Homo sapiens: one gene and its partners. The protein of the gene in region 6 purifies or fractionates together with the protein of the main gene of each other region. This does not show direct contact. Each region holds a gene or a part of one and is shown on either strand. Other genes may lie near its edges.

Evidence for each region.
Region 1: the proteins of GLRX5 (region 6) and ACO2 fractionate together in Homo sapiens (co-fractionation; one large-scale study listed by BioGRID). This does not show direct contact.
Region 2: the proteins of GLRX5 (region 6) and GLOD4 fractionate together in Homo sapiens (co-fractionation; one large-scale study listed by BioGRID). This does not show direct contact.
Region 3: the proteins of GLRX5 (region 6) and CLIC4 fractionate together in Homo sapiens (co-fractionation; one large-scale study listed by BioGRID). This does not show direct contact.
Region 4: the proteins of GLRX5 (region 6) and RAB11FIP5 fractionate together in Homo sapiens (co-fractionation; one large-scale study listed by BioGRID). This does not show direct contact.
Region 5: the proteins of GLRX5 (region 6) and OPA3 purify together in Homo sapiens (co-immunoprecipitation; one large-scale study listed by IntAct). This does not show direct contact.
Region 7: the proteins of GLRX5 (region 6) and WDSUB1 fractionate together in Homo sapiens (co-fractionation; one large-scale study listed by BioGRID). This does not show direct contact.

The regions. Positions count from the first base shown.
Region 1 is NC_000022.11:41,510,242-41,514,276, reverse strand, and holds part of ACO2 (aconitate hydratase, mitochondrial precursor), read right to left. Parts: intron 2,402-4,035; coding exon 2,309-2,401; intron 1-2,308. UniProt on the Homo sapiens protein: Catalyzes the isomerization of citrate to isocitrate via cis-aconitate.
Region 2 is NC_000017.11:772,032-776,066, forward strand, and holds part of GLOD4 (glyoxalase domain-containing protein 4), read right to left. Parts: intron 3,889-4,035; coding exon 3,744-3,888; intron 1-3,743.
Region 3 is NC_000001.11:24,800,719-24,804,753, reverse strand, and holds part of CLIC4 (chloride intracellular channel protein 4), read right to left. Parts: intron 1-4,035. UniProt on the Homo sapiens protein: In the soluble state, catalyzes glutaredoxin-like thiol disulfide exchange reactions with reduced glutathione as electron donor. Can insert into membranes and form voltage-dependent multi-ion conductive channels.
Region 4 is NC_000002.12:73,106,288-73,110,322, reverse strand, and holds part of RAB11FIP5 (rab11 family-interacting protein 5), read left to right. Parts: intron 1-4,035. UniProt on the Homo sapiens protein: Rab effector involved in protein trafficking from apical recycling endosomes to the apical plasma membrane. Involved in insulin granule exocytosis. May regulate V-ATPase intracellular transport in response to extracellular acidosis.
Region 5 is NC_000019.10:45,553,803-45,557,837, forward strand, and holds part of OPA3 (optic atrophy 3 protein), read right to left. Parts: intron 848-4,035; exon of another isoform or gene 708-847; intron 110-707; coding exon 1-109. UniProt on the Homo sapiens protein: May play some role in mitochondrial processes.
Region 6 is NC_000014.9:95,537,515-95,541,549, reverse strand, and holds part of GLRX5 (glutaredoxin-related protein 5, mitochondrial precursor), read right to left. Parts: intron 1-4,035.
Region 7 is NC_000002.12:159,283,703-159,288,527, forward strand, and holds the start of WDSUB1 (WD repeat, SAM and U-box domain-containing protein 1), read right to left. Parts: upstream 3,002-4,825; 5' UTR 2,881-3,001; exon of another isoform or gene 2,658-2,880; intron 1-2,657.

The DNA of each region.
Region 1 (4,035 bases), on a different chromosome or scaffold from region 6:
CCCACCCGGGGATGTGGGGAAGAACACATGAGAGGTGTGACAGGCTCTGTGAACTCTCAGGACCCACCAGTGCTCCCAGAAATCTTACAGAAACCCCAGGGCCTCTGCCTCAGGACAAGCATCTGCCTAGCAGACTCTAAGGTCCAAAGGTCTCATCTCTTGGGGATGCAGAGGGAAGACCTGGCTGCGAAGAACTGGCCAATGCTGCCACGTACAAGGATTTAAGACTAGTGCATCCCTAAAGAGCCTCAAGCTTGTAAAAGTTGGATCCACGAAGGCTGGGCACACAGAATTCGGGGTGGTCTACACGGTGTAGACACTTGTGGTCCACACGGTGTAGACACTTGTGGTCCACATCCAGGGGGAGAGGTCAGGCAGACATGAGGACTGCAGAAGATGTCACGATGACGCTGGCCGTGACAGTGAGCTCCCCGGTCTGTGGGTGTGGCTGGACAGATGGGGGTGAGGGCTGGGAAGAAGGACTAATGCCTAGAACTACACCTGGAAATTCAGCCATCCATCCACACAACACACACATACATTAAGGACCTGCTCTGTACTGACCTGGTCCCAAACCCAGAGCTAGAGAGGAATAAATAAGCCACAGTCCCTGTCCCCACAGAGCACATGATCCAGTGCAGAAAGCACTTGGCAGATGCTGGAACATAATGTGAAGAGATCCCACAGAGGATCCACTGGAAGCCACTGTGCCAGGCACGGGGAGGGCCGGGGAGGCTCCACAGAGGAACCAGAAAGCTGTGATGTGGAGGAAGGTCTGCGGGCCAAGTGGGGCCAGGGCACTTCCCAGAGGGAAAGGGGTTCAGGTTTGGGTTGGACCTAATGGACTGAGGCTGCTGAAGACGTGACATCAAGGCGGGAAGAAAGTAAAGCTGCAAAGTACTCCCATGGCCCCTGGGCATTTTCTTTTTAAAGAAACAAACACACGAGCTGCTGTATGCTTAGCAGCTAGCCGGTGGCAGATGTGAGCTGCCATCACTCACGGCTCCAAACTTTGGCCCAGGAGCTGCCATAAAGGCCTGGGCATTTGTACTGAGGTAGAAAGGGAGACACCTGCATTGCAGTGCCCTTTGTAACAGAAGGCCAAGACTGGGTCCACCTGACTCCCTAACCCTGCTGCAGAGAGGGGCTTTCTAGTCCCCACAGGCCGCTGCAAACGGCCATTCCACGCAGCCCCTTCCTGGCAAGAGTGATGGTTGGGCAGGGCAGAGGAGTGATCCCCTGCTGGCTCTGGTTTCAGAGCGGGGCGGTGCTGGGAGCCCATGCGGCGTCAGATTACAGCCTGACTCAGCACATCCTGAGGAGGCCAGGACAGTGAGGTCTGGGATGGAGGTGGGGGGAAGGGCCACCTTGCAAAGGTGCGAAGAGGCAGGTTTCATACATACAGGGTGGATGTAAATGGACACAAACTAGGTCAGTGGTCCCTAACAGTGCCCTTGGAAGAAAGGGAAGCACCCACCTCCCCAGGATATACACGTTCACACTTGCACTTCCAGAGACAAAACTGTCCAACTGTCCACCAAAAGAAGATCCATCCTTGGGACACCTCAGAGGAGCCCCCGGCTGACATGGCCACATGACCTATGGTACCTTCACCCTACAGAACACCATGAAGGAGCCAAAAAGAAATCCGAGGAGCGCCACGTGCAGAAGCAGAAAGAGCTCTGGGGGCGAGGGAGGCGGCAGAGCAGCACGGTGGCATGGGGCACTCGCTCCAGACCAGCCCTCCTGCCCACAGGCCTGGCTCCACAGTAAGCCAGCTAGGTGTCCCTGGGCAAGAAGGTTAACATCTCTGTGCCTCAGCTGCCTCCTCTGTAGGGTGTGGATAGTAAAAGCACCTACCTCACAGGGCATGGCAAATATCTTTCAAGTGCTCAGCCTAGTACCTGAGACACAGTATGGGCTCATCAAATGTCAGTGATGCATGCCACAAGGGGTGACACTTGTGAAAAAAAACAAAATAATACCATGTTCTGTATGAGAGTTTATGGGAATAGAGATGCTTGAGTACACACCCAGAAGACAATGTGGAAAGAAACATGTCGCACTTAAAATGCTGGTTACCTGGGTGGTTAGGAGGTATTATTTTAACTTCTCACCCAGAAAATGAGCACGTATAATGACATAATGAAAATCAGTTTCAAAACAAAGGAGGAAGAGCATAAGAGCTGATGGATATGTCATCCAGTTCCCCTCAGCCCCCCTGGGCCTCAAACCCCCTCCCCCCATAGGCCTGGAACATACTTCTCTGGCTTGGGCCCTTGGGACGGCAGACTGAGCCCAGCTTTACCTGGTGAATGATTCCAGATCCAGGCTTCCAGAAGCCCACGCCATATTTGGCACCTGCAGTTGCCAGGAAATTATAAACTTCCTGGTTGATGTCCTATTGAGACAAATCAATAATTGGGCGTTAGCAACATGGTTTGTGTCCAGGTGACCCTCACCAAGCCCTCCCCACCCCATCAGCCTCCCTTCTGACTCTGAAATACTGGCACTGGAGACAGGCCCTCTCTTAGAGACCTTCTAAAAATAATTCCAAAGAGCTTGGATGTTGGCCCAGTCTCCACTAGCAGTGTCAGAGAGAAGGACAGGGGAGCAGAGATGGAGCCCCAGTTCTGTGACACCTGGCCAGGGTGGTGGGTCTGGAACAAGTCCCTGCCCTGGTCTGGGTCTCAGTTTCCTTATCTGGAGAAGGGACTGGTCTAAATAATTGCCAAGAGTGCCTGTGGCACTCAAGTCCCCAGATGAGGCCAGCAGTGCAGAGGCAGGCCCTGGCCTAGGCGCAGTGGCTGGGTGCAGTGGCTCACGCCTGTAATCCCAACACTTTGGGAGGCTGAGGCAGGCAGATCACTTGAGGTCAGGAGTTCAAGACCAGCCTGGCCAACATGGCGAAACCCTGTCTCTACTAAAAATACAAAAATTAGCCAGGCATGGTAGTGCACACCTGTAATTCCAGTTACTCGGGAGGCTGAGGCACAAGAATTGGTTGAACCTGGGAGACAAGGATGCAATGAGCCGAGATCGTGCCACTGCACTCCAGCCTACAAGACAGAGCGAGACTGTCTCAAAAAATAAAAATAAGAATAAAATAAATAAAAATTAGCTGTGCACCTGCGGTCCCAGCTACTTGCAGGCCGAGGCAGGAAGATCACTTGAGCCCAGGAGTTCAAGGCTGCAATGAGCCGAGATCGCACCACTACACTCCAGCCTGAGTGACAGGGCAAGACCCTGCCTCAAAACAAAACAAAAACCCCAGAGGCTTTTTTTGAAATAACTTGCTGGAGATCCCAGGCTTAGACGACACCTGAGAGAGCCCCCTGGACTGGTGTCTGACTGTCGGAAGTGCTGAATTCTTGGTAATGTGTTTGATGGGCCCAAATGGAAGGCTGTCGAAGGGACCACTGTTCTGAAAAGGAGGTTTCAGCCAAACGAAATGATGACACGGGCTGTAGCCATCCTGCCTATAATCTGAAGGAAGCTTCCTTGAGGGACAGGGAAGGGCCCACTGCACAGCAGATGTGAGGCCAGGGTTTATCTGGAAGACATGGGAGGTCCCTGTGTGGGGTCAGTGAGACTGACCCCAGTAACAAAACGGTGGGATTCTAGTGGACTCTACTGAGTCTCAAAGGAGGAACTAGGAAATGGGACCTGCCAGCCTCCGGCATGGGAGAGCGATGCTTCAGAGAAGGGACCTCAGCCAGTGCCCTCGGACCCTTGATGAGATACACTCAAACCACACACCCCTTCACTGAAACTCCAGACCAGTGTGTGCCCTCTGAAGGCCCACTGGGTTCCCCCAGGTAAGAGAATGGCAAAGAACGTGGGTTTCCAGAGCAGTCTCTTTCCAATTAATAATTAATACATCAGCTTTTTCATTTACAAATCGGTCACTTATGAAATTGGTATCCAGGACAGGAGGCTGTGGTCGTGTCTGGGCGCATGTGACTACACGTCTGTGTTAAGTGTGAGGAAGGGGTGTGGGAGGACCCCAGACTGGTGCCAGAGTCTCGGCCTGGA
Region 2 (4,035 bases), on a different chromosome or scaffold from region 6:
AAAAAAGATTAGACAGGCGTGGTGGCTCATGTGTGTATTCCCAGCCACTTCAGAGATGGAAGCAGGAGGATCGCTTGAGCCCGGGAGGTTGAGGCTGCAGTGAGCCAAGACTGCACTACTGCACTCCAGCCTGGGTGACAGTGAGACCCTATCTCGAAAAAAAAAAAAAAAAAAAAAACAAAGACAGTATGAAAAGCCTCATTATTCAATGGACGGCGCTAAGAAGACTGGCTAATCATTTGGTAAGAAAAACTTACATCTTCGAAATAAATGACAAAATACATTCCTGATGGGTTAAAAAAATAAGTTTAGAGAATGAAACCATGAAAATACTAGATACAGATGATTATTTATACAATTTTGGAGTAGAGGAAGATTTTTCTTTAAACCTGACACCAAAGATAGAAAAACTATGAAGAAAAAACTTCTGCTACATAAATTACACAAAATGGAAAACTCCTAGACAACAACCAAGAAAAGGAATTACAATCAAAACTAGAGTATACAACACAGTAGGGGGAACAACTGCAATATATTGGACAAAAAGTCCTTAATATGTAAATCACCTGTAAATATCAATAGGAAAAGAATGAACATGCTAGAAAAATAGGCAAAAGGCACAAAGCAATAATCCACAAAACAAGGAATTAGAATGGTCAAATAACATACGAAAAAATATTCAGGCCGGGCGCGGTGGCTCACGCCTGTAATCCCAGCACTTTGGGAGGCTGAGGTGGCAGGATCATGAGGTCAGGAGATAGAGACCATCCTGGCTAACACGGTGAAACCCCGTCTCTACTAAAAATACAAAAAATTAGCCGGGCGTGCTGGCGGGCGCCTGTGGTCCCAGCTACTCAGGAGGCTGAGGCAGGAGAATGGCGTGAACCCGGGAGGCGGAGCTTGCAGTGAGCCCAGAGCGCGCCACTGCACTCTAGCCTGGGCGACAGAGCGAGACTCTGTCTCAAAAAAAAAAAAAAAATTTCAACCCGACGCCCCCAAACAACAAAGAAATTAGAATTCACATAAAATCCTTTGTTAACTAATGTGCAAATAATGTTAAAAGTTGGCAGTGTTAACTGTGTTAGTGTAGAGGGGAAAATCACAATCATGTAATACAAGTGTAAATCAGTACATTTCTGGGCAATAGTTTGATGGAATGTACCAAAAGCTTTAAAAAGTGCTCATTGCTTTTGAAAGAACAAGTCCATTTTCAGCCACTCCAAAGGTAATTGTGGATGTATGAAGGGCTTTTACGACAAAGACATTCACCAGTGTTGCTTAGAACAATAAAACACTAGGAACGACATAAATATCCAACAATAGAGAATTGTTTCTCTTCCTACAATGTAATAATACGATGGAACTCCTAAAAAAGGATATACAGAAATGTATACACTTAATTATATATACGTATTTTTGACAAAAGATTGGAAAGATATACTCTAAAATGTCAGCAGTGGTTCTCTCTGGGTACATGGGTGTGTGTGTTTTTTTTCAGCTTCTCTGCTTGTCTAAGGAAAAAACTTGATTATTTTGTAAAAAGAATAAAAGTCATATTGAAACACCTACTGTTACTGGAAACTTTTCACATTGTAAAGTGACTTTCTAAAGAGCTGTTCCACGTCTCCATCTGACTACGATAAATTCAGTACATTTTTCTTTGGCTTTACTGCCTTAGTCCTGTTTGCTAGAACAGCAATATTGGGATTAAGACGCTGTTTCTCACAAGTGCCTCCGCCTGGCAGGCTCCATTTTTTTCTTTCCATTTACTTCAAAATCAACAAATCCCAGTTGACTTGGAGCCTGAAGGGACGCAGGACAGGAAGTTAACGCGTGGGTGAAGCTGCACAGAAGTGGGTAATTCAAAGGAAAGATGAATGCCAGCCGGACAGAAGGTCTGACCACATTGTCAACCAGAAATGCCCAAGGGGATTTCCATTCCAAAGAACAAAAGCTTCTTAGCACCATGGGGCTCTCTATTATTTTAAGCACTGAAATATCACTAAGGCTGGAGAGAAAAAATGGATGGTGGAGCTAGCTGCAAGCGTTAAGTTTTAAAGTCAGCAAAGGATCAATCACCTATCAACAAAAAAACACCATCAACACCCTTTAAATCACCAGTGAGGCAGAGAAACACCATCTCTCCACGAGTCCCACACAGCCAAGTCTAGCCTCCCACACTGGAACAGACGGATCTTTCTTTTGCTGAGCACCGGATGATAAACAAGGAGCACTGAACATTCTACAGACTCAGCATGGGGGCATCGGGGACAGGAGGCCGACCAGTGAAGAAGGAGAATTTCCAGGACTCCCTTCTCAGGCCCACTTGCAGGCATACGTTCACCAAGTAAGGGAGTCGGCACAAGTGCCCTTGCCATTCGCCAGCATTTTCCCCGTTTTTGCTTTTGTTTTGTCAGAGCAGGTAGCTGAATTTGCAGGCATTAAATACAAAATGAAACACTGATGAGGCTGCCTCTGCAGTCAACAAAACAAACCCTGCAAAGTTTCCTTCTTGTTCTGTGTGGCAGTCAGCGTGGGGGCTCCTCACTTCCATGCCATCCCTGAGTACCCACGCTCAAGTCTGGGAAACTGACCTCGGCTCCAGAGGAGGCATGGCTAAATGGTTTGGGGGTGATCCTATTTCTCTTGCCAGTGATTGGTTTAGGAGCAGGCACAGTATATCAAATCTGAACAGGAAGTTTGCTGGAAGATTCTAGGAAAGTTTTTCTTCTGCTCCTAAAAAGAAAGCAAAAAGGGCCGGGCACGGTGGTTCACGCCTGTCACCCCAGCACTTTGGGAGGCTGAGGCAGGCGGATCAAGTGAGGTCAGAAGTTCAAGACCAGCCTGGACAATATAGTGAAACCCTGTCTCTACTAAAAATACAAAAATGAGCTGGGCGTGGTGGCATGTGCCTGTAATCTCAGCTACTGGAGAGGCTGAGGCAGGAGAATCACTTGAACCTGGGAGGCGGAGGTTGCAAGTGAGCCGAGATTGCAGCACTGCACTCTAGCCTGGGCGACAGAGCAAGACTCCGTCTCAAAAAACAAATAATTTTTAAAAGTTAATAAAAATACTAAAAAAAAAAAAAAAAAAGCTGAGCGTGGTGGCAGGCGCCTATAATCCCAGCTACTTGGGAGGCTGAGGAAGGAGAATTGCTTGAACCCGGGAGGCAGAGGTTGCAGTGAGCAGAGATCATGCCAGTACACTCCAGCCGGACTGACAGAGTCTCAAAAAAAAAAAGCAAAAAGAAGTCAGCATCTCCTCTCCTACCAGATGGGATTGTGGGAGCATGTGGCCCCACCTGCTCCTGGCAGCTCTCCTGCAACCTTGAGGGGACTAGTTCTAGGAGAGGTACCCGCAGAGAACAACAGAACGTAGAAAGAGAAAATGTGGGGAGCTGGTGAATCATCTAACCTTGAAATCTTTCCCACCTATAGAATGCCTGCTCTGTGAGCTAAAAGATTCTATAACTGTTCAAAGTAGTTGGGTTTTCTGTTATTTACAGATGAAAGAATCATAAATCACTACATTACCAGTAGAACAGAACTAGTCTAGATCCCCTACTGCTATGTATTTAAGTTCTGATATGAGAATGTAGTCTCTCCGATAACAGGTAAAAGCACTGGCTGGGGAAGACACGTCACGTGAACACAGACTCTACAAAAAAAAGACAGGCAGCCCTCACTCTCCTTTCACCAAAGATGCCTTTAGACAGAGGCTTTTACTGGTTCTGGTATAATTACCTGACTGAGGCAGACTGCGATTCTGCAAATAGAACTTATATCCTCCCGGGGCCTCGGTTTCAAAAACACCTTCTGCAACTTCCGTCAGTGGCCACTCCAGCTTCCTGGCGTTGCTGACAGCCTGGCTAGAAGCGAGCGTGATTCCCTACAACAAACAACAGTACATCCAAGTACATGATCACAACAGATATTTTACAGAACAAGACAATGAGCCCAACCCCTATTGCCTACTGCCTTTAGGTAAAATCACCTAAGATTTAACTGGCATCCAACATTTTCTTCTAGTGATTTA
Region 3 (4,035 bases), on a different chromosome or scaffold from region 6:
CAGGTTTAGAAAAACATTCACTAATAATTCTATTAATTCAGCTCTTAGCAGCCTCAACAGGATGTATCATCTTTGAAATCGTCTTAAAAAAGAACATAAAGACATAGCAACAAAATACTCCCTCTCTGTGTGTCTATATCTCCCTCCCCTCTCAATCACACACACACACACATCCCCACCCACCCACGTACACACATCCCCCCACCCACCCACATACACACATCCCCCCACCCACCCACATACACACACACCCTCAACCCACACACTCCAACCCACCTACACACACCCCACCACCCACCCACCCACACATACACACACACCCCCACCACCCACCTACCCACACACACCCCCTCCACCCACCCACCCACACACATGCACACACATACACACACCCCCCACACACACAGTGGGTACACATGTGATTCTGAATGCAGTCATAAAGCACAATTATCTTGAATTGGACTGTTCTAACAAGTGCTTCATGTAGCTCAAGTCAACTTTACAAAGGGGAAAAATGGAGTCTGACTTTCCTGTCTGGACAGCAGCAGGAAATAGATGATGTCTCTGAAAGACAGGCTTATCTCATTCCATTTAGTCTCTTGGCATGTGTCATTCATGCTGCTGCTACTGAAGATCATGGAAGTTGAAATGATTTCTTAAGTTACTGAAGACTGTTTTCAGAAAGGTGGAACCACAGAGACATGATCATGAAGATAAAACTATCTGAAGAGTCTATTTGGGAATCAGATTTTTTTCTGAGTTTCTAACTGCCTTTTAAGATATGCAGAACTATCAGTTTCATAGTTCCATTGTAACATTTTAAACTATTACAAAAGTGAAGTTTTTTTCCCTTTTCTCCTGATTTTAAATATAAGGTAACTAACTCCAAGGAAGATGAGGCAGCTCGCCCCAGGTCCCAGTGAAATCAGTGATAGAGCTCTCTCCATACACAGCTAGGTCTCACTCCTGAAATTTTCTATACTATGCCATGGTTGTTTCCCAACTGATGACATGCCAGAACATCTTTAACTCTGCCCCAATTTTAGTATTTTCACTTATATTATCTGAAGCTTTTGTTCAAATCGTTGATGTAAATTGAAATTCTTTGTGAAGCCTGGGCCCTTTTTTTTCTATCTAAACGTTCTTTAAATTGCAATATGAACAGAAAATTAGATTTGGAAATGACTCCCACCAAAGCACGAAGGCTGCTCTGGCAGGCAAGTAATGGGAGATTGTTCACAGCCTCACAAGGGACACATGAATACTACCAGCATAGTCATTAATGCCAACTGAGATTCAAAGAGAACATGTCATACAGTGCCAGAACTAGAAATGGGCTTGTTCTTATGGATGAAATGTCATGTAACAATCATTTTTTTCAAATCATAGAGTGAGCTGCTAAGTAACTCTCAGAGGAGTTCTATTGTTCTCCACTGGTTTGTTCTGGAGTCAGTACTTCTCACCAAGATATTAGGCAATTACCAGGAAAAGCAGGAAAATAAGCACTGTAGGCATATTTTCTCCCCCAAGATTTCTAAAAAGAGTCACATTTAATGTTTTAAGATTAAGAATATATTATGAAAAGTACTACAGGGATGTTTTATTCCTCTGTGATAACTTTCATATATACTGGTGGGTTGTTTGTTTTTGTTTTTTGAACCAATGCTCACTTTCTTGAGGTACTTTCTCTTTAAAATTTTGTTCAAGACTGCAAGTGTGTAAACTCATAGAAAAGATTTGGACGAGGCCAGGCACAGTGGCTAAAGTCTGTAATCCCAGCACTTTGGGAGACCAAGGCCAGAGGACTGCTTGAGCCCAGGAGTTCAAGACCAGCCTGGGCAACACAGGGAGACCCTGTCTCTTAAAAATAAAAAATTAGCCAGGTATGGCAGTAAATGCCTGTAGTCCTAGCTACTTGGGAGGCTGAGGCTGGAGGATTACTTGAGCCCAGGAGCTCAAGGCTACAGAGTAAGCTGTGATCGTGCCACTGCACTCCAGCCTCGGTGACAGAGGCAGACCGTGTCTCAAAAAAAAAAAAAAAAGAAAAAGAAAAAAGGAAAAGATTTGGAAGAATAAAGACCAAACCTAAAATAAATTATCTCTCTGAAGGGGAAGTTGATGACTAGGGGGTAGGGATGGTACAGACTCATTATCACGTACTACTTGCTTAGTTTTAGTTGCCCTAAGAAGCATTTTTTATATTTACTGGAGACCTATGATTGTTAAAGACCAAAAAATATAAGCTTCAATTTTAAGTGCTCTCTACCATTGATTTTACATAAAGCCCTAGGTAATAAACATATATCTTCTTTGATATTTTCTAATTATAAGGCCCTGAATGCCTACCTCCCATGCGCCACTTTTTATATATATAAACACTTAACATATACACTTACACATATTTCCACATACACACTTTAACATATATATACAAATCTGCAAATATCAATCAACCTATAGGAATAATGCCTTTAAAAAATCTGCAAATGAAAAGAAACAGACAACTCTGAAATAGCTATAATGGGTTTACTTCCTTTTCTGACCCAGATTCCCATGTTTATGGCACTATTACTGGTATGTATCACAATTAAAGCACTGTATTAAACTATTCAATGACAGCTTTTTCAAAGAATGGCAGTCAACTCACTTGCTCCAAGCCAAAAATGGAATAGGAGAAATTCATGTATTTTAGGACACAGTAAGGGTGTGTGCCTGGTGGCACACTCTATTTTTAGGAGTTATATTGGGAAACTTGCTTTGTGTACACATGTATAAAAAAAAAACAGTAATAGAAGGGTAACTACATGACTTATTTCATTCTTACATCTCTGCCCAACATGAATAAGGTAATGTCTTCCCAAGAGCTTGTAGTTTTAACTCACTATTCCCAAAGGCTTATTTCTACATTTATATACATAACTAAAGGGGTTCCTTGATGACTTTATGGCTTATGTTCAATAAATTTTAAAGTCTGTAAAATTTCAAATATATGCACTAGCAGTAAGTAAAAATGTATTTTAAGGGAATGACAGAAATCTGAGTACACTAACCTAGAACTTGGAATGGAATTATAGCTCTCAGGTAACTATCAGCATGTGATGCTCAGAGGGATAACATAGATTAATTCTGCCACTTTATCAAGTGATAGGCTGTCAATATCTTTTCCTGGACACTGTTCATGACTTGATATATAATATGGTTTAAATTTCTGTCCTTGCCCAAATCTCATATCAAATTGTAATTTTCAATGGTGGAAGAGGGGCCTTGTGGGAGGTGACTGGATCACAAGGGCAGACTTCCCTTGCTGTTCCTGTGACAGAGAGTGAGTTCTCACAAGATCTGGTTGTTTAAAAATATGTAACACCTCCCCCTTCTCTCTTCTTCCTTCTCCGGCCATGAAAGACATGTCTGCTTCCCCTTTGACTTCTATCATACTTGTAAGTCTCCTGAGGCCTCCCCAGACAAGTTTCCTGTACAACCTGCAGAACTGCCAGTCAATTAAACCTCTTTTCTTTATGAATTACCCAGTCTCAGGTAGTTCTTTATAGCAATGTGAGAACAGACTAATAGTTTTAAAAATCAGTATAATAGCAAATCATGTTGTGACACTTGCATCAAGAGGAATCCACTGCCAAACCCTAGTTTTTCCCATTAATACAACTATTCTTTTTTTTTTTTTTAATTTATTTTTTTATTGATAATTCTTGGGTGTTTCTCACAGAGGGGGATTTGGCAGGGTCATGGGACAATAGTGGAGGGAAGGTCAGCAGATAAACAAGTGAACAAAGGTCTCTGGTTTTCCTAGGCAGAGGACCCTGCGGCCTTCCGCAGTGTTTGTCCCTGATTACTTGAGATTAGGGAGTGGTGATGACTCTTAACGAGCATGCTGCCTTCAAGCATCTGTTTAGCAAAGCACATCTTGCACCACCCTTAATCCATTTAACCCTGAGTGGACACAGCACACGTTTCAGAGAGCACAGGGTTGGGGGTAAGGTCACAGACCAACAAGATCCCAAGGCAGAAGAATTTTTCTTA
Region 4 (4,035 bases), on a different chromosome or scaffold from region 6:
GGTGGTATTTCCTGGAGCACCCTGGTGTGGGCTACCAAGACTGAGTCTGAACGCTGCCTGGTAGGGAGAGGGCAAGGCAGAGAAGACCAGGGTGTACCCTCCTCAGCTTTGGATAATGGTGGAAATGAAAAGTATCCATTCTTTAACTCCAGGAGTTGGCTGTGGTGGTCTCAGGTAGGGCAGGTGGTGGCCCTTTGCCAAGAGAGGACCTGACTGGGGAAGGTACCCTTATGGTTAGGAAGGGGCTACAGAGTGGCACTGGACAGATCCCAGTCCCAAAACTGCCACCTGTGGCAAGTCATATAAACTCTTGGTGCCTCAGTTTTCACGTCTGTAAAATGGAGATAATTTATACCTTCATATGGTTGATGTGAGGGATGAAATGAAAATGCAGCTTAAGCACCTAGTACAGTCCCTGTACATGGTAGGTGGTCAGTGCAGAGCAGTGATGGTGAAGGGAGATTTTAGTAACAATGTCTGGAAGAGCTTCTTATGGGATGGGGGAGACAGTCTAGAACTTAGAGCCTAGGAAAGCCTTAGGACCATGGGTGACGGAGTACACAGAAGAGTACGAGAGTTCCCAACAAAATGAGCTGGCCCTTTGCAGCTCTCTGTATTCTATTTGCTGCAAGAGGCCCAAGAAATAGGGCTGGGCTTGAGAGGCCTCTGCAGTCCTGAAACCAGGCTCAGATAAGCCCGCAGCTCTGCAGCTCTCCTCCCTGGCAGCCCTGCCTGGAGCTGCCCCTGCCCTGTTGGGAAGGAAGGATGGCCCAGGGCTTAAAAACCTGGAGACTGGGATTTCACTCCCCGTTCTGTGACTTACCAGCAGACAGGTTACTTATCCCACTTCCTCACTTTGAAAAAGGTCATGATAATAATCATAGAGTTGTACAGATTAGATAAGACACCATCTGTAAAAGCCTTAATGTAGTTCTGGATACATAGAAGCTCTCAAAATATTAGCGTGGTGGTGACTCTGGGGCCCCATTTTGTGTGATGGTGGTGGCTGGGGTTGTAGGTGCTTCAGCAGCCTCCGAAGGTCTTGTGTGAGTGGGGCAGTCTTTGAAATGAGGAATTTCACCAGAGGCTTCCAAATAATTGAAGAGGATATTCTCAAAACAAAATGTAATGGTAGTACACAAGGAAACTAATGATCTCCCCACCCTCAGTAGAACTGTCCATGGATCGTCATGTTCCTGTTGGTCTGGAAATCCTGGATGCTTCTCTGCGATTTATTTTCTGGTTTTTATCTTCAACATCCTTTTTTTTTTCTTTTTTGAGACAGTGTCTCACTCTGTTGCCCAAGTTGGAGTGCAGTGGCAGAATCTGGGCTCACTTGCAATCTCTCCCTCCCAGGTTCAAGCGATTCTCCTGCCTCAGTCCCCTGAGTAGCTGGGATTACAGGCATGTGCCACCACACCCAGCTAATTTTTGTATTTTTAGTAGAGACTGGGTTTTGCCATGTTGGCCAGGCTGTTCTCAAACTCCTGACCTCAGGTGATCCACCTGTCTTGGCCTCCCAAAGTGCTGGGATTACAGGCATGAGCCACCACGCCTGGCCCAACGTCCTTCTTAGCACTCCCCAGTGGGTGTCCTGTGTTTGCCTCCCTAACTCCCAAGACAGGGATGGGATGTGGTGGTTAGTTAGTTTTCCTTGTTCCCTGTGGGGTCAGATGGGTCATTTGGACCTTTTTGGTCTTTATGCGATTGGTGTGGATCACACCCCCAGGGAATGGACCTGGATATATCAGAAGAGGGAAGGAAGGAAGCAGCAGCAAAGGTTTTGGAGTAAGAAGACAGGGCATCTGCCACAAGGCCATTTTGGTTGGGGAGACCTGGTCTTTGCCCCCTGGAATGCTGGTCTTTGTGTGTTTTAGGAGAGGAGGAGAGAGCACAACTGTGTTATATGGAGCCCCTGTCCACCTTCTCCCTCATCCTGATAAGGGTGAAATGGTCCCTGCGGTAAGGCCTGGAGTGTGGCAGACAGGATCGTCATCCTGGGCCTGTTGGATCAATGGTTAGAAGCTGGCCTCTTGGGAAAGCAAAGGCTGTGGGTTCAGCTTGGGTTGGGATCAGTTTGTCTTTTTTCATCACAAAGACTAAAACTGTTGTGACCATGAATTGTGGCCTGCAAGAGGCTCCGTTCAGCCCCTGCTTAGACTGTGCCACTTGGCAAGGGAGCTCGGAGAGCTGAGGCTGTGAAAGATGTAGGTCTGAGATGAGAGCCTTCTGCCTGGCTGGTCATGGTGTTCTGAGACCTCCTTAGGTGGGTGGGTTTGGGGGCACTGGGAGGCACCTGAGGGGACATGCATCCCATTAGCCTAAGGCTGGGATGGTCTTTGAGGGCTTCCATCTATCCCGTAGCCCACAGACAGCCTGGGCAGACAGTTGGTGGGCAGATGGTGCGTGACCCCACAGCCTTCTCTCTGTTGGCTTCTGGGTGTGACTCTGCCCCTCGGGAAACAGCTGTGGTCACTTGAGCCCCTGGCCTTGGCTCCTGCTCGGCCCCAGAGCTGGCATGGGAGGCCTGTGGCACTGCTGGGGAGGTCTACTCTGGCTGCAGAGGAAGGGTGTGGCTGCACTCAGAAGCCAGTCGTTGGTATGCCGAGGCTCCACGGCCCTTAGTTATGGGGTGGTTTTTATTTGGGGTTGCTTGAGCAGCAGCGTCTTGGGGTGTGGGGCGGGGTAGGAAGTGTGACTCCTCAGTCAGGCTGGGCAGCTCCTCCTCTCTGGCCTGGCAGCTTCCCCTGCCCTCCCCATCTGCCCCTGGCCCTGAGCCCTGGCTGGGACCAGGGAGTTTCAAGGGGCCTGTGGTCAGCCCCATCTCTGCCCCACCTGTCTCTCCTTGTAGGCAGCTGGCTGCAAGGCACAGCTCAGCAGAGCCACATCCCGGTGACCTTGAGGGCTGTCCTTCTCTGCTGGGAGCTGCCCGCCCCACTTGTCACTGCTGCCACCTCAGTGCTGTGACGCTCTTGTCTAAACCACTGGCCTGGCCTTGTCCAGATGTTCTCCTGCCCTTCTCACCCTACGCAGGGACAGATGATGAATACAAGAACAGAAGCTGTTGTGGCTCTGCTCCAGGGGAAGCAGTCCTCTTTTTCTTTCCTTTGCAAAATAGTGTAGCCATGAAGCAGTTTTGTTCTTCCCCACAGCCAAGTAATAAAAATGAGTCCACATGTGAGTCTGCTGTGCACCTGGCAGTCCCTTCAGGGAAGAGTCTGATCACAGTGCCCTTACTGAGCTGGCCTGAGGTTATTTCTACCTTGGGAACAATGGTGGCCAGAGAGGAGAGGGACTTGGCTGGCCACATGAGGCCTCTGTATGGAGCTGGGCCCCGGCCTCTCAGGAGCAGTAAGTGGGGCCTCCCAAAACGGGGCTCCCAGGGGCAGCCAGCACCTCCGAGAAGCTGCAGGGTGGGGAGGGGGTATCACAGGCCACTGTGACCTTTGGTTCACCTGGTAGTGGAGAAGGGAGCACAGCCCTTACTCATGGGACTCCAGCATGGGAGCTGGAAGAGAGCTCAGACAAGGAAACTGGGGTTTGCAGAGGGAGAGCTGCACACTCTCACTACCCAGCACTTAGTGGAGGGTGTGCTCTGTGTGGTTTCCATTAGACCCGGGCAGCCCACAGAGCTGTAGGATTTGGGGTAAAGAAGAGGTGGCATTTGGAGCCCTGTGTGCACCCCGGAGTTTCTGTGGAAGTGCCTGCCAGGTTTTAGTGAGATGGGGACATTGGGCTTCTCTGCTGACCTGGAAGGGTAGTCCAATCCAAAGGCAGTTCTAGAGGCCTGAAAGGCCAAGAGTGGGCCACTGGTGGGGGAGAGATTCCAAAGGGGGGGAAGCCTGGATATCTCCCTACATTTGGAGGAAGCCCTATAGCCAAGTGCTGTGTTTTGGGGCCTAGACAGGGAGCCCTGGAGATGTTCGGAGCAGACAGAGCCACTGGCGCTGGCTGTGGTCTCCTCCTCTGTGAGGAGGGGACATACACCAGAGACCTGTCGGCCATCATGGAACCCATCTGCCTCCCCAGCCTTCT
Region 5 (4,035 bases), on a different chromosome or scaffold from region 6:
AGCAGCTCTGCGCCCAGCTCAGCTGCCGCCTCCTCGTTCAGCGGCTTGATGACCGTGCCCCGGAAGCCCATGATGCGCATCTTGGTCCGCATCTCCACCCAGTGATACACTGCGGGGGAAGAGAGGGGTCAGGCTGCGCTCTGGGAGCCCCCTGCAAGCCCCACCCCTCTCACCCAGGGAATGCAGTCACCTAGCCTGGGTAACCCAGGGGTCTTTTAAAAGACCAGATGATTCTAGCGAGCAGCCAGGAATAAGAAACACTGCCCCAGAAGGGAGGTCCTCGGACTTGAGGGGCCGCGCCCCAAGAGGGACACCAGGAGCTTCCACAGCGCCAAGTTCATGGACGGTGTAAAGGTCCAGTTGCCAGATGCTTAGTTCCCTGTGTTCCTCCCTTAAGCCACTGCCATCCTGGCTGTCCTGCCCTGGCACTGTCGCCCCACCCACTTCCCAGGAGAAAGACCAACCTCCTTTCTTGCCTTATTTTCCCAAAATGCAAAGTTGGGGCTACAGATGGGGGAGAGGGGGGCTCCTGGCTCCAAAGGGCAGCTTAAGGTGGCAGTCGATGCTAAGTGCCTCTGAACACTTAGATACACTTGTAATAATCAATCATTTTTGCAAGTCTGATGGCTCCAATCCTAGAATTTCATCAGCCCTGAAGGTGCAGCTAAGAGCTGCGAGCTCTTCACAGTGAGGTTTTGGGCACATACCTTGGTGGGAGCTCAAGAGGTGAGTGGTGCTGCTGGAACAAAAACTCCTTCCTTGCCTAGCTGCTTCTTTATGAAGGAAGGTTCTCAGCACTTGAGTCTTTAAAACCAATGCAGAATTGATGCTGCATCCTGACTCACTCCTGCAACAATTAATATTCATCCAAGGGCACATGAAACCACAGAGGGAACCCTTGTGTGGTGCCTTTGCAGACTCATTTGCAACATCTCCTTTTACTTTTAAGGTTTAGTAATTATTCATGAAAATGTATAAAAGATGAACTTTTTGTTGTTGTTGTTTTAGAGACGGAGTCTCACTCTGTTGCCAGGCTGGAGTGCAGTGGCACAGTCTTGGCTCACTGCAACCTCCTCCTCCCAGGTTCAAGCAATTCCCCTGCCTCAGTCTCCTGAGTAGCTGGGACTACAGGCACGCGCCACCATGCCCGTCTAATTTTTCGTATTTTTAGTAGAGAAGGGGTTTCACCACGTTGGCCAGGCTGGTCTCGATCATCTGACCTCGTGATCCACCTGCGTTGGCCTCTCAAACTGCTGGGATTACAGCCATGAGCCACCATGTCCATCCAAAAGATGAACATTTTAAAGTAACTGCGCACTAATAATTTCAAAATTAACTCAATCCAGAAGAAAATAACTTAGCATTTAGAACCTTATGGTCACAGGAAATTAACATGTAAATTTCTGTATGTATTTTGGTTGCCGACATATAAATCACTAGATGGAATTCTGTGGGTATGTGGACTGTAAATACAAAAGTACATGAACAAAAAGAAACCATGTGAAATTTCTGACTGAAAAAGAAGAGCTTGTTTTTATTTGTATTATTTTCGAGACGGGGTCTTGCTTTGTCGCCCCGGCTGGAGTGTAGTGGCGCAATCATGGCTCACTGCAGCCTCGACCTTCCAGGCTCAAATGATCCTCCCACCTCAGTCCCTTGAGTAACTGGGACTACAGGTATGCCTGGCTAATATTTTTTTTTTTTTTGAGATGGAGTCACACTCTGTCGCCCAGGCTGGAGTGCAGTGGCGCGATCTCGGCTCACTGCAAGCTCCGCCACCCGGGTTCACACCATTGTCCTGCCTCAGCCTCCTGAGTAGCTGGGACTACAGGCGCCCGCTACCACGCCCAGCTAATTTTTTTATATTTTTAGTAGAGATGGGGTTTCACCGTGTTAGCCAGGATGGTCTCGATCTCCTGACCTCGTGATCCACCCACCTCGGCCTCCCAAAGTGTTGGGATTACAGGCGTGAGCCACCGTGCCTAGTCATTTTTGTATTTTTTTTAAAATAGAGATGGGGTTTATCAGTATGTTGCCTAGGCTGGTCTTGAACTCCTGGGCTCAAGTGATCTGGCTGCCTCGGCCTCCCAAAGTGCTGGGATTGCAATCGTGAGCCACTATGCCTGGCCTATATATATATATCTTTAAACCAGACATTGGTAGGCATCAAATCATTATTGTATGCGAACTGCAATAAATATGAAGGGAAGGATGCACCAGCTGTTTGAACATGTCAGTATCATAACACACCAGAACCAGAAATTCCATCCTTCACAACTACTTAAGGTTAATGAAGAAAAGTTTTACTTGTCAACTTGAAAATGCACTAGAGGGCACACAATTTATTTTTTCTTTTTCTGAGACAGGATCTCGTTCTGTTGCCCAGGCTGGAGTGCTGTGGAACAATCTCAGCTCACTGCAACCTCTGCCTCCCAGGCTCGAGTCATCTTCCCACCTCAGCCTCCTGAGTAGCTAGGACAACAGGTGCATGCCACCATGCCTGGCTAATTTTATTTTTTTTGGGTAGAGATGGGGTCTTGCCATATTCCATCTTATTTATTTATTTATTTAACAGATGGGCTCTCACTCTGTGGTCCAGGATGGAAGGCAGCGGCTCCATCACAGTTCACTGCAACCTCGAACACCTAGACTCAAGCAATTCTCCTGCCTCAGCCTCTGGAGCCGCTAGAACTATAGATGCCCCACCATGCCTGGCTGTTTTTAAATTGTTTTTTGGTAGAGACTGGGTCTTGCTATGTTGCCAAAGCAGGTCTTGAACTCCTGGGCTCAAGCAATCATCCTGCCTCAGCCTCCCAAAGTACTGGGACGACAGGAGACAGCCACTGAGCCCAGCCACTACACATTTTTCATCTTCAAAGGGGTGGGGTGGCAGGAAGGCTTGGGGAGCTCTGCTGGAGCTGGAGGGAAGACCTGAGGTGCAAGCTTAGGGCCCGAGAAGTCACTGTCACTGTCACTGTCAGCTGCTGCAGTTACTGTTACAGCTGTGACTTAGGCCCTGGGCTTGTGGGTTCCTGGGGTCCAGGCTGTGGAGACCCCTCCCACACTGAGGTCTTAGGGTCAGGCTGATCTGGGGTCCCCCCGGGGCTCCGCCACCTGCTGCCTGAGCAATGACAGCCTGCCCCAAGGCCCCTCTGTAACACAGGAAGGACAGCATCATCCTGACAATGACACTCGCCAGACCTGGTGGTGGCCCAGAGCTGGGCCCGTAACTGTCACTGCCTCCTTCATGTCAGGGACACCTAGCACAGTGGCCAGAGAGTGGTGAGGGGTGAGGGTTCCAGATCCTCTAGCCTTCCTGGGTGAGGTTCCCAGCGTGGAAATGCAAGTGTCTCAGTGCAGACCAAGCATGGGGATCTGGGCCAGCAGGTGGGTCTAGGTGTGCCAATGGGAGTGGGCACATACCCAGGCCACAGGAAATCAAATCAAGAGGGTGTGTGTGTGTGTGCACGCGTGTGTGCACGCAGGCATGGGCTTTCAGGGCTTTCAGAGCAGGGGCCGACGGCATTCTCCCTCGGGCCAGCGGTCAGATGTGGGGTTCAGGAAACAAGGCCCAGGTGGGGATGAATCACAGGGCTGTGATTCTAGAAGGGACAGCTGTGAGGGGCCGGGACAGGCTAAGCTGGAGGACTCACCAGACTTGCGGGGGTCAACACGCTCCAGATGTCTCCTAGACCTCTCACACTCAGCACATCCAAACCTGAACCCAGCACCTGGCCCCACACCTGTCCCCTGGCTAGAGACGGGGGCCTCAGCCCAGCTGTTCCCCTTCTCCCACAGCCTCTCAGCTGCGTGTCGGGTCCATTCTGCATCTTGAACATCTCTCCCAGTGGATTCCCTTCTGCTGTCCTGGTCCAGGATCCATCCCAGCTCTGACCAACGTTCTCCTCCCTGACCTCCTGAATAGGAGGAATACAGCCTGTCTATCCCCTTCTGAGTGCCTATCACAACCAGGAATAGTGGCTATCCAGTTACCTGTCTGCAATCAGTCTCCCCACTGTCCTGTAAGCCTCACAA
Region 6 (4,035 bases):
ACCTGCCTGTTCTTGACAGCAGCTGACGGTTTATCAAAATTAAACTTAGCTGCTTCTTTAATTTTTAGATGAATAGGTGTAATAGGCAGCTGGCATCAAGGCCAAACGTTGGCACCCTTCTTAATGACTATGCTCTTTTCCATTTTTAAGAAAGTTGATTACCAGTTTAAATATTTAAGGAAATACCCAATTGCTTCCTATAGAGTGAAGTGAGAAACTCCTAATAATAATAAAAGACTACTCTTCATAAGTTGAATATTAAAATGAATCCTGCGGATCCACAAGTAACTGTTTACACATGGTTAATCTCTCTCACACTTTAGTTTTCAAAAACTGCAATATGCAGTGGTAGTTCTTACAAATATCACTTGAAATTAACTCAGAATCAGAGAGCTACTCCTGAAAATTAGAAAATCACATCCAAGAATGAATTTTAATGATAATCATTATTTCATATGTGATAGACGGTGGTGATTCCATCTGGGGCAGAAAATGCTGACTGCAAAGTTATATGGCAGAGTAACACTAGGAACTGGGAGTTAGGAGGCTATCTTACAAAGTCAGTTTACACGCATCTAATGCTCCACCAAAAAAACCCATACAAACAAATTCATATTCCAAAGTATCAACCCAGAAAGAGTACAGAAATGATACTTTAAAATTCCCTTCCAGAACTTTCAAAAGGTATTTTTCAAAATTCATCACATTCAGAACACTGGGCATTACTCCTGATTTGGACACTAAATTACGAGAGCAGCATAATCATAGTTTTCTTTCTTTTTATTTTTCCTGGTAGAACCTCACTACAGTAGCTTCAGAATCTGATATGAGTTCCAACTCTGTCTCTTACCTACTAGACTCTGTGATCTTGGGCAAGTTACACCACCTCTGAGAGTCACAATTTCTTCATATTCTCTAATTTAGAGAATGGCGTTAAGTCGAGATAAGATGATCTGAGCTGAAAGCACGGAAATCAGTAGACCCTCACTAGAGGAAAAGCAAGGCACGGGGCAGAGTGGGCAAGGCACAGGCTTAAGGATCAGTAGATCTGGTTTGCTAGCCTGTAAATGTAGCCTCAGACAAATCTGTTAATCTTTTAGCCTCAGTTTCCTCATCTGTAAAATGGGAATATACTCTACGCCTCACATATTATGAAGATTCCATGATATCTAAGGAATGAAATGAATTGAGCTCCCAGCATAGTACCAGGTACAGTGTGGACATTCTCTCCATACCAACATGCTCCACCACCCACCCTTCACAGTAATGCTTTTCTGAGAAAGGCAACAGAAAAAGCATAGGAAAATAAAGCAGGAAAAAGTGATTAAGTATACCCTAAAGTAATGAAAACGCCATTCAGGCCAGGTGCGGTGGCTCACACCTGTAATCCCAGCACTTTGGGAGGCCAAGGCTGGTGCATCACCTGAGGTCAGGAGTTCAAGACCAGCCTGGCCAACATGGTGAAACCCTGTCCCTACTAAAAATAAAAAAAATTAGCCAGGCATGGTGCCAGGTGCCTGCAATCCCAGCTCCTTGGGAGGCTGAGGCAGGAGAATCGCTTGAACCCGGGAGGCAGGGGTGGCAGTGAGCCGAGATTGCCCCCTGCACTTCAGCCTAGGCAGCAGAGTAACACTCTCTCAAAAAAAAAAAAATATATATATATATACCATTTATTGAGTTAAGGATTACTGAGTTTCATACTCTTTAAGCGTTTTACAAAAATAATCTTATTTAATCTTTACAAAAATCTGACAAGGCAGGTACAATTATCCCTACTTTACATAAGATGAAGAAACTAAGGCTCAGAAGGGTTAAGTAACTTACCGAAACTCACAGTGACAGCGCAGTGAAACCAGGATTTATATCCAGGCTTCCAGGAGTACAAAAGCCCAGACTCTTAACCACATGCTACCTGAGTCCCTCACCAGAGGTGGCCTCTACCCTCTAGCTGCCATCTCACTCCTGCCCAGGAGCTACAAGTGCACTGCACACATATCTGCAATATATGGGACTGTTTTATGCCTTTAACATTTACATATACAAATGGTATTATGCCATAATTACGTGTTTGCAACTTGCTTTTTGACTAAATATTGTATTTTTGAGATTCAGCCATGTTAAATACATCTAGATCTAGTTCATTTTAACTACAGTTTAGCTTTCCATCATGTGACTAAAGTTTATTTATCTGGTCTGCTGCTAATAGACCAAGATCCCTTCCTGTCAGTTTTTCATTATTGCAAGCCATGCTGCAATGAACGCGCCAACACAGGTATCCTAACACAGAGGTCCCCAACCTTTTTGGCACCAGGGACTGGTTTTGTGGAAGACAATTTTTCCACGGACCAGGGAAGGGTGGGGATAGCTTCGGGATGAAACGGTTCCACCTCACATCATCAGGCATTAGTTACATTCTCGTAAGGAACGCACAACCTAGATTCCTCACATGTGCAGTTCACAATAGAGTTTGTGCTCCTATGAGAACCTAATGTCGTCACTGATGTGGCAGGAGGCGGAGCTCAGGCGGTAAAGCTCACTTACCCACCGCTTACCTCCTGCTGTAAGTCCTCGATCCCTGGCCTGGGGGTTGGGGACCCATGTCCTAACACACACATGCAGAAGTCAGTCTCTAGGCCAGGGACAGATAAACTATGGTCTTCAGGCCAAATCCAGTCTACTTCGTAATTAAAGCTGTATTTTCATAAATAAAGTTTTATTGAAACTCAGCCTGCTCATTCATCTACATATTGCCCATGACTGACTTCAGGCTATATAACAGCAGAGTTGAATAGATGCAACAAAAACCACACAGCCCACAAAGCCTGACGTACTTAGTCTCTGGCCCTTTACTAGGGTAAGTTTGCAGATCCCCCTCTCTAGAATATATACCTAGGAGTCACGCAGCTGGGTCTTAGGCTCTGTTCACCCATAGCTTGACTGGGTACTGATAGTTACTCCTCCAAAGTGTTGGTACCATTTTATACTCCCATCTGCAGCATACATGTGCACCACACAAGCACATACACACAACTTGTTATCCAACTTTTAAGGTTCACCAGCATGACATGTTTCACTACTGTCTTCAATTCCCTGATACTGAAAAGGTGGAGCGTATTTTCAAATGCTTAATAAACATTCAACAACAGGATATGGTTATTTATTCAACAAATCATTTGAGTCCCTATTCTGTCACTGTTCCAGATGCAAGGACTACAATGATGATCTAAATCGGCAGCAAATGTTTATAATGCCTTTAAGGCCGCAGAGTTTGCAATATAATGATAAATAAAAGCAGTATTTATTTATTTATTAAAATGCTCACTGAAAGCTTGCTTTGCATAAGCGGTACACACAGCACCACAGGCAGTGGCATAAGACATATTCCCTCGTCTCTGGAGGGCAAAATACTATGTATAGACAAGCATGGTCTCAATGTGTTAAAAAAAAAAAAACTGTTAGGAACTAGATCTAAATGTTAATACAATAGTTTCCATAAATTACAGGTGATTTTCCTTCTTTAAACTTTTCAGTGTTTTCTACATTGCTTCCATGAGCATAAGTTCCTTTATTAAGACCAGGATTAGGAAATGATGATGTCAGTCTACTGGGACCTGATCCCTTTGTGACTGTCTTCTGTGTGCACTCCAGATAAAAAGAGAAGGACAAGAAGGTCTTGAGAAGGCCAGAACACAATGCTGCCTCATAGTCACCTTTGTTCCTTGGGTCACAGTCTCAAGATGTGTCTGTATCACACTCCTGGGAACCCAGTACTCAAAACTAGGAAAGAATGTTTTCCTCCGGTTTAGGCACTTTGTAAAGTTCAGGTCTCCTTGGCATAAGAACCAACAAAAGGCCAGTTTTGCAAGAGCTCCGTTCCTATTACTAGAAATGACCTTGGATCTGGTGTACAAACATAGTTTCGGCTGGCAAAAGCAAGCATCGGACAGCCCGTTAGTTGCTCTTGGTAAATAAAGCTGTATAGGGAAGAGGGGAAGAGTCTTAATAACCTGGCTGAACTAATCCCCATTTGGGGAA
Region 7 (4,825 bases), on a different chromosome or scaffold from region 6:
TGACAAGAGGTGGAGCTCACTCATGCCCTCACCTCCTGCTGTGCAGCCCAGTTCCTAACAGGCCATGATGGGTACCAGTCCTCGGCCCTGGGGGTTGGGGATCTATGTTTTGTTTTTGTTTTGTTTTGTTGAGACAGGATCTCCCTCTGTCATCCAAGCTTGAGTGCAGTGGCATGTTCTCAGGTCACTGCAACTCCCGCCTCGCGGGTTCAAGTGATTCTCCCACCTCAGCCTCCCAAGTAGCTGGGATTACAGGCATGTCCCACCACGCCCGGCTAATTTTTTGTATTTTTAGTAGAGACCGGGTTTCCCCATGTTGGCCAGGTCTTGAACTCCTGGCCTCAAGTGATCCGCCCACCTCAGCCTCCCAAAGTGCTGGGATAACCAGCGTGAGCCACCGTACCCGGCCAAGGGAGCTCTGTTTTAAAGGACAACCTGTTACCTGGGATAAGAACAATTTGGAGAAAAAAAAATCTATAAGACTATAACCTCTGATTCTCACAACCACCGTTGTCATACCAATAAATTTCCACAACTCCTCAAAAAGAACCTTCAAACTGTCAAATAACTTCAAACTGATTTGATGTTGAGCTTTCAAAACCTAAGGTGTTTATTTCACCTTTGAAGCCTTTCTCATAAGGAGTTCTCAAAAATACCTCACTCCAGATCTGCTCATCTCAACTCAAAAAGTATTTTCTATTCTAATAAACTATCTTAGCTGTTCCCTTCACAGGATGGAGCCAAGGCTATCTGCTCCGCCTTTAAAATCAAACTGTAGGATTTGCTCTTAAAAAAAAACAACAAAAGTCTCATTGAAAATTTATTAATAAGTGACCATGTTGAAAGCTGTCCTATCATGGTTTGTCATCCTGTCTGATAAATAGTAAAATTATACAAAAGACTTGAGGTGAGGAACCACCTCTGAATGAATCAAGGAAACCAAGAAAAGAAAACCTAAGAAAGTGTCAAAAAATGAACTTAGCCAGACCACGCTCAAGAACAAATTTACAAATTTAGAATAAAATCAAACTCATCATGGCAAACAAAATCCTATACAGTCTTATGTAATCAAAATCCTATATAATTCCCGCCTGCCCACTTCTCAGATCTCAACTCTGGCCACTGTCCCTCTCTTCTTTCCAGCCTCCTTGGCCTAACAGTCTTCCGTCTCCATAAAGCGGTTTTCTCAAGCTGAAATGTTCTTGCCTCTGCTCTTGGGATCCTATTTGTCATTTAGATCTCAATTTCAGTGTCTCTCCTCAGAGACGGTTTCCCTATTTAAAGTAGCCACTCCCTAGGCTAGCACATCACTCTATATTCTCAGCAATTACCACCAGCATCGGATATTTGTTAAATTGTCTCCTCCGACTAGGATGTAAATCCCAAAGGAGTAGGTACTTTGCCATCTTGCTCATTTCTGTATCCACACCATGTAAAACTGTCAGGCACCTAATGTACTTAAATAAATATAAGTTGAATATTTATTTTGTTCGAGCCCAACTGAGTTCCAGCCTTTAAATAATCCATATGTAATATGAAATTAGAAAATCTACCAAGACTAAATATATATACACACACAGAAACATAACTGACGGTGGAAAACTGGTGTCAAGTGAGGCAGAATCAGCTCTGAAAGGGGCAGGTATAACCTTGACTTGTAAAATTGATAATCCTTTGTCCTAGTCTTATTTACGGAAACACCTCTACCAAAGAAAAAAAAAGTCTGGGCGCGATGGTGCACACCTGTAGTCCCAGCATTTTGGGAGGCCGAGATGGGTGGAACACTTGAGCCCAAGAGTTTAAGACCAGTCTGGGCAACAAGGCAAGACCCCATCTCTCTAAAAATAAAAATAATTAGCTGGGTGTGGTGGCGAGCACCTGTAGTCCCAGCTACTCGAGAAGCTGAGGCGGGAGCATCACTTGAGCCCCGGAGGTGACGCCGGCGGTGAGCTGTGATTGCACCACTGCACTCTAGCCTGGGCAACAGAGCAGGACCCCATCAATCAATCAAACAAATATTAAGGCATAAGGAGCATGCCTTTCCCTATCTTCATCTTATCCTTTTAGGATAAGTTCAGCTTCTTTTCTTCGAACATAAACTCCAATAAAGCCTAAAAACCAAACACGAAAATTTCTGGTAGACTATCCCTGTACTGCTGTCTTGAAAACAATCAAGACCAGGTGGTGCTTTCTGGAGAGCTCGCAAATCCCAGCTGTGCAAGTGCGCACAGGTGATTTTCCAAACAAACTCCGGCTCCCAGCCCTCTGCCGCACTCAGCTCCCTTTGCAAGTTCCAGGGCATTCAGTGGGAAGTACCGAGGCCACCGTCAGCTGAACAGTTTGTTTTGAAAAAGCTCTCAGGCCTACCCAGGACCTGCCTTGGGGTAGGGGGGGCGGTGTGGGCGTTCCCTCGGGCCTCGGCTGTCACGCGAACAGTAAATTCCCGGGCACACCAGGTCAGTTGGCCAGCGTAAACACATGAATCCCATCTCATTCAAAGCAAACCCGAAAGGTGTCCAGCGCTCCCAAAATAAAGTCCGCCACTTACACCCCCCATGCACGAAAGACCAGGAATGTGCCCCCCTCTATGAGCGGCCGGGCCTCTGTGGACTGAGCGACCCCAGGCAAGAGGGAGGCCTGGGAGGCAGGGAGCTCACCCGCAAGGGGCTTCCTTCCACCCGACGCCGACACGCCCGCCCTAGCCCCGGGCCAAGGGTGCACGAACCACGCCTCGCCGCACTCAAGGTCCCGGTTGGGCCCTGCTGCGCGGTTAGAACCGGGAAATGGAGGGCTCAGACGCCCCGCGCGAGCAGGCCCAGCCGCGCTTCCCCACCTGCCGCCACCGCCGCTGAGCCGGCCCGTGGGCGCGGCCGCTCTCACCTGCAGGAGCGGGGGCGCGCGGGATCCGCCTTCAAGGTGCCCACGGGCGGTGCGGGTCACGTGCCGCGCAGGTGAGGCTGGCGGGGCGGGCGCCGGCGGAGACCCAGAGCAGAGGGAACAGGCCCCGCCCCCGAACGCCCGCGGGGACCCAGAGCGGAGGGAACAGGCCCCGCCCCCCGAACGCCCGCTGTGACCCAGAGCGGAGGGAGTAGGCCCCGCCCCGCGAAAGCCTGTGGAGACCCAGGGCGGAGGGAACAGGCCCCGCCCCCGGGACCGGCCCCTGAGGCGGCGCATGCGCGCTCTTCCGCCCGGACTGCGAGTTCCTCCCCAGCTTCTGGCTCCTAGGGTCAAGGCGATTTCAGGCTTGGAAAGGGACTTCCGTCGCAAATCTTTCTGTTTTTGCTAAAGCTGCGGTCGCAAGGCCTAGTGATCGCCTGAAACGTCGTTTTAAAGGGGCGTTGCATGGAATGTTCGGCCATCCCTGCTGAAAGTTTTTACCTCTTTCTCCAGTTCTCCACCCTGCACTGTGTACTCCGAGGCCGGTCTCCCAGATTGGCCTTCTCTATTTCGGCCACCCTGGGCGGTCCGTGACTTGGCGTCTTCTGCCCTCGCCTCCTCATTCGGGTTCCCCTAGGGGTCTCTCCCGGGCAGGCTGCCTGCCCCGGGCCCCAGCCCTGCCGTTGGGTGGGTATCCTGAGCTCACTGGAACCCCGGGCGCCTTTTCTTCAGCCTTTCCCAGTGCGTCCCACTGGCTCACGGTAGACTGGTTTCCACGTGTCATTGACTACAAAGTGGCCCTGCCAGTGCTTTTTGAGATAAAAATTATCCAGAAAAAAAAAAGTTCCTGAGCAAATTACCACTTGTTAACTAAATGCACAACATAGTGTGGGACTATGTTCAGATGAAAATCAAAGATACAGAGAGCTTTTATTTTTAATCCATGAGGAAACATTAAAAATATATCAGCCTGTGGAGACCGAAGTTACATTTGAAGAGTAATGACCTAAAATGCTCACATTTAAAGATGAAATTGAGACCGTGGGAAACTATTTGCAATGAAAAAGATTAAGGGGAAAGGGAAGATTAAAAATTAGGATTTTGTGAAGTTCTTGTTAATTTTTTAAAATTAGCGGAGTGCATCATGATTGAGACTTTGAACACCAAATTCCATTCCAAAGTATTGCCAAAACAGTATTTTTCTAAAAACAAGTTTTTGATTGTATAAATAATAGAGCTCTCTGTAGGAAACACAGAATATATAACAGGAAAATAAATAGTCAATAATTACACCCCTCAGAGATCACCCACTCAGAGATAACATTTTCTCTCAGTCTTTCAGAAAAACTAATTTTACAAAAAGTCCTGGAAACTGCCTTTTTAAACAAACTTGTGTCATGAGCTGTTCCCATGTCTAAAATTTCATTAGCTTTTTTTTCTACATAATGGTCTACATATAAACATACCATAAATTATTTAACATTTTCCCTGTTGCTGGATGGTTTCAACAATTTTGATCTTAGTGTAGATAATGCTGGATTAAATATCTTTGTACCTAAATCTTTTTCTTTTAGCCTCAATATATTACCACGTTATGTACATAAATCTTTTTCCATATTTATGAATATGTACTTAGGATAAAAATTGAAATGGAGGCCAGGTGCGGTGGCTCACGCCTGTAATCCCAGCACTTTGGGAGGCCAAGCTGGGTGGATCACCTGAGGTCAGGAGTTCAAGACCAGCCTGGCCAACGTGGTGAAACCCCATCTCTACTAAAAATAGAAAAAAATTAGCCAGGCATGGTGGCACGCACCTGTAATCCCAGCTACTCAGGAGGCTGAGACAGGAGAATCTCTTGAACCCAGGAGGCTGAGGTTGCAGTGGGCAGAGATCTCCCCATTCCACTTCCAGTCTGGGGGATAGAGTGAGACTTTGTCTCACAAAAGAA